Regions from separate parts of the Homo sapiens genome. Here region 2 is linked to region 1. The links come from fine-mapping of genetic effects on gene expression. Tissue or cell type: whole blood. Region 1 holds a variant in brackets; the other region holds the start of a gene. All regions are shown on one strand. Distances are between the middles of the regions.

Evidence for each region. PIP is the estimated chance that this variant, and not a neighbour inherited with it, causes the effect.
Region 2: KLHL3 starts here. The variant in region 1 is fine-mapped to the expression of KLHL3 in whole blood (TOPMed, PIP 0.96).

The regions. Positions count from the first base shown.
Region 1 is chr5:137,907,968-137,910,467 of GRCh38, forward strand. PKD2L2 (polycystin 2 like 2, transient receptor potential cation channel) reads left to right here. Exons shown (of 15, transcript NM_001300921.2): 8 at 798-979. Among named protein-coding and RNA genes, the nearest start is that of PKD2L2, 20 kb to the left of the region's middle. The variant G/A (reference allele first, on the strand shown) is at 1,314.
Region 2 is chr5:137,734,859-137,737,473 of GRCh38, forward strand. KLHL3 (kelch like family member 3) reads right to left here and starts at 1,231. Exons shown (of 15, transcript NM_017415.3): 1 at 775-1,231. The coding sequence starts at 788. RefSeq lists an enhancer at 830-1,498.

The DNA.
Region 1 (2,500 bases):
ATTAAACTAAAAAGCCATGGGGAAAAAAGATTTTTTCAACTATTAAGTAATTTTAAAAGTAGTTTGGGCCAGCACAGTGGCTCATACCTGTACTCCTAGCACTTTGGAAGGCCAAGGCAGGTAGATTCTTGGCCCCAGGAGTTTGAGACCAGCCTGGGAAATCCTATCTCTACAAAAAATATCAAAAAAATATTAACTGGGTGTGGTGGTGCAAGCCTGTAGTTCCAGCTACTCTGGAGGCTGAGGTGGGAGGATCCCTTGAGCCCGTGAAGTGGAGGTTACAGTGAGCTGTAATCCCCCACTGCACTCCAGCCTGGATGACAGAAAAAAAAGAAGTTGGCCAGGCACGGTGGCTCACGCCTGTAATCCCAGCATTTTGGGAGGCTGAGGTGGGCGGATCACCTGAGCTCAGGAGATTGAGACCAGCCTGGCCAACATGGTGAAATCCTGTCTCTACTAAAAATACAAAAAATACTAGCTGGGCATGGTGGCACGTGCCTGTAATCCCAGCTACTAGGGAGGCTGAGGCAGGAGAATCACTTGAACCTAGGGGGCAGAGGTTGCAGTGAGCCGAGATCATGCCACAGCACTCCAGTCTGGGTGACAGAGTGAGACTCCATCTCAAAAAAAAAAAACAGAAGTTTGGCCTTGTAATGATTGCTGGGAAATCCTCAAACACCCATGATTATCATTAAATATCTCCTTTAATTCGAAGCAGAATTCTTCTGAAATTAATTTATTCTAAGTAATTTCATCTTTGATATTCTCCTATTTCAATTAACTTTGTTCTTTTTCAGATATTCAAATTCATAAGCTTTAACAAGACAATGTCTCAGCTGTCATCAACCTTGTCCCGTTGTGTTAAAGACATAGTAGGATTTGCCATCATGTTTTTTATAATATTCTTTGCTTATGCCCAGTTAGGATTTCTTGTTTTTGGATCACAAGTTGATGACTTTTCCACTTTTCAGAATTCCATGTAAGCTCTTAGTATAAATGTAATTATATCTTCTATATTTTCTTACAAAAAAAATTGGAAAGGTCTAACCTTCTATGATAAGTAGTAATATAAGCTTTAATATATTTAAACTTAGTTTGATATTTTCTTTTTCTTTTTATTTTTCTGGAGACAGGGTCTCATAGCTCACTGAAGCCTCAAACTTCTGGACTCAAGCTATCCTCAGCCTCCCAAGTAGCTAGGACTACAGGTGTGCACCACCACGCTTGGTTGATTACATTTTTATTATTTTTTGGTCTCACCATGTTGGCCAGGGTGGTTTTAAACTTCTGGGTTCAAGTGAACCTCCTGCCTC[G/A]GCCTCCCAAAATGCTGGGATTACAGGCATGAGCCACCAGCCTGGCTGATATTTTCACTGATGGCTAAATATCTGTCACATTCAAATTAGGATTTGACATTGAAGGAGCCAAATGGGTGACGGTGTCCATTTTTAAGGTGTTAATAGGTCAAGTTAGAAAAATAATTTTTCATTTTTCATTGGAAGTGATAATTTTACCTAAGATAATAGAAATTGTCCCCCATGTCTCTGTGGTGTTTATTCTCTGGACAAAAGAAATTTTTTTTTTTTTTTTTTTTTTTGAGACAGGGTCTCCACTCTGTCACCCAGGCTGGACTACACTGGCGTTATCACAGCTCATTGCATCCTAAAACTCCTGGGCTCAAGCAGTCCTCCCACCTCAGCCTCCCAAGTAGCTGGGTGTGCCACCACATCCAGCCAATTTTTGTATTTTTTGTAGAGATAAGGTTTAGCCATGTTGCCCAGGCTGGTCTTGAACTCCTGAGTTCAAGTGATCCTCCTGCCTCGGCCTTTCAAAAGTGCTGGGATTACAGATGTGAGCCACCACACCCAGCCAAAAGAAATCTTAAGTGTTTTCTTTAGAGGGCTCCATCTTAATATTTTTATTGATATTGACCTGATCGTCCTTTGCTAATCTGCCAAACATGTATTTTTAAAATAGCTTTAGGCTGGGTGCCATGGCACCTATAATCCCAGCATTAGGGAGGCCAAGATGGGAGAATCACTGAGGCCAGGAGTTCAAGACCAACCTGGGCAACATAGCAAGACTGCGTTTCTACAAAAAAACAAAAAACAACTAGCTGGATGTGGTGGCATATGCTTGTATTCCTAACTACTCAGGACACTGAGGCAGGAGGATCACTTGAGCCTGGGAGTTTGAGGTTACAGTGAGCTATGATCACACCACTGCACTCCAGCATGGGCAACAGAGTGAAACCCCATCTCTAAAACAATAATAATAATAATAATAATAATAATAATAATAATAATAATAAAACTTGGTAATAATTGGCATTGAATACAGATGTAATAATTTACAGAGCCTAGGAAATTTGTCTTACCGTGGGTAGTGAAGAGGAAAGGGAAGTATAAAGCACAGAACAGGTAGAGAACTTTGAAATGGGTTAATGAGAGGACGTCTGTTTTTGGTAAGGATATGTTAGGTTATTCAGATCAATCTCCTCTTG
Region 2 (2,615 bases), 170 kb before region 1:
ATTCAGATCTTCAGATAACAATTTAAAAATTTAGATGTGTGTGCCTGCCAGGATCTAACTGCCTCGCTAGTTAGATCCAGCTCAACAAAAGTACTTAAAATCTTTTCTGCTGGTTCCTATTTCAAAAGAAATCCCTGATGGAGGAAGCACAGACCTTCCAGTATCACTCATAAACTTTTCAATACAAATATGAAACTCAGTTCAGAGCAAGTATCATCTGACTGGGTTTCTCTCCTTCATCCCTGAATGTGTGTGTATACAGGCATACACGGCGTGCACGCGCGCACACACACAGCCATCAGCATGGCATGCTTGCTGAAGATTCAAGCACTCCTGCGTGAAAATGCAAGTACACTATGTCAGGTCAGCCCCACTATGACATCAAAAACCCCCCACCAAAGAAAAAACACCCCGGGAAAGGAGCCAGGAAAGGGAAACGCCTCCTTGAAACAGCCTGAGAAAGGCAATCTGATTCAGCCTGTGCTGAAACTATTCCCGAACACCAGCCAGGAAGTCCCTTCTTTCAGGGTGCTCCGCTGCCTAGCAAACCCAGACCTGCCTTTGCGGAAGCCAGATCTCTGGAGATTCAAGCCCTGGAACGGGTGATTTGGAAAGCGGCTTTCCTGCTCTTGTTCTGGCGCCCTTTAAGATCCATCAGTGGCCAGGTCTTCCAACTCTGCCTAGCCAATGCAAACACAAAAGCTGGTGGCTGCACCGCAAGCACACATACACTTACATACACACACAACACAGCACACACTTATACATACATACCTTTCACCCTCCATTGTGTGAGGCCCAGCCAGGGTGGTAGCTGCTGAACTGTGTATGCACTCGGGGATCCTAGTTCTGTTCTTGATTCTCCCAGCAGACCAGTGGGAAATCTGATCAGCAACAGTGATTCAGCATGGCTGCAAGTGAAGCCTCCTCCCTTCTCAATCCTCCTTCCTCTGACTTACTCGCAGCAGCTTCTACCGCAAAAGCAGCAGCAACAGAAAATGTCTTACCCAGAGCTCCCTGCAGCCCTTTCAGCTGCTAAAAGCAGCAACCCACTTGCTCCCCCTCCCCCGCAGGCTTGCTGCTCCTTGGTCTCCTAGGAACGGCGGCAGCTCCAGCGACCCAGGTGCACTGCCACCTTTCCAGCTTCCTCTGCATCTGCCCAGGCATCCCCAGCCCAGGCGATTAGCCCGCCCCTGGGGCTCCTGCCTCCTCTGTCTAGGCTGCAAAGAATCAGGCAGTTCGTCACTAGCCCGAGAAATACTGGCCCCTACACCCTCCCCTGCTCCCATAGGCTATGAGTCTGTCAGCCTGGCCAGATTGCTGGAATGAGGAGGCCCCTCTGTGGCCTGCAGTGGAGTTTATCATCCACCTGGGGAAATTCACTTGTAGGTCACAGTTTATGTTCCAAATCCTCCTCCCAAATTCTGTAGTAGCTCTGAGTGTCTGATAGATGGGGAGAAGTTAAGGGAAAAGCACCTGACAGAAGTGAGAAAAACACAGAGAGAAATTAAGAGAATACAGAGAGAAATTGGAAAACTAGTCGAAAAAGAGAGGTAGTACAAATAGGTGAAACTGAAACAAACCCTATTTTACTGCAAGAGGCCAAAGACTACTGCAGTAAAGCTATCACAATGAATACTAAAATATCTTAGCACAATCCTAAAATATCTTCCTAAAATCTGTCATATTGGAATTTAACTTAAGCAGTGGCTCCAACTAGTAAGTCTCCCACTGAACCCCCATATCCAGCCAAAGATCTTTCACATCCTGTAATCTCCAGCTGCTGAGCTTCAATTTAGACTAATTTAACTCTCCCTGCCTGAAATGCCTTCTCCAATCCCAGTCCTTTAGTCTTTCTGGGAGTCCAGTCAAATCCCATGTCTTCATAAAACCTTCCCTAATCACACCAATGACAGTCAATCACCACCAAAATACACAAACTATACTTTCCTGTATCGTCATCTCACACCTAATATACAGTCTTGGCTAATTCATTATTTATAAATCTTCTTTCCCAAACTAAAACATAATCTTGTGGAAGGCATGAGGCCAGTCTGTATATCCTAGCCACAGAGGCTTAGAGGTAACTGGGACAATTAGCTGCAAAAAGTGGTGCAGAAGCTATCCTAATGCCTCAGAAAAAAATCAGCTATGAGCATCTCTCTTCTGGGACACCTCATGGCACCCCTGGGCTTTTCCGAATCCACACCAGCACTCACTGGGTGAGTGACTTTCCTGAGTAGTGTTCTCCACACTCTGGACCTCATGCTCAGCTACTCATTCACAATATAGGGTCAGACCAGACAATCTTTAGAGTCCCTTTCAGCTCCAAGATCACAGGATTCTAAAAATGTTTTAAATGGTCCGTTTTTCTTCTCAGAGTAATCCGTGTGATTGTTTAAGAAGAAATACTAGGCTCCAATGTGTTGTAGGGGGCTTCAAGGAGGATAACATGATGTAGGTGAAAGTACGAAGAGACGCTCAGTAAATCTATCATCCTTATCATTTTAACCTGTTAAATTTCTTCACTACTACAAAGCCCTAAAACCACAGAAGGAAGAGAGGAACACTGAGGTGACAGAAAGTAAAAGTAACTAAAACTTTATATAGCCTCC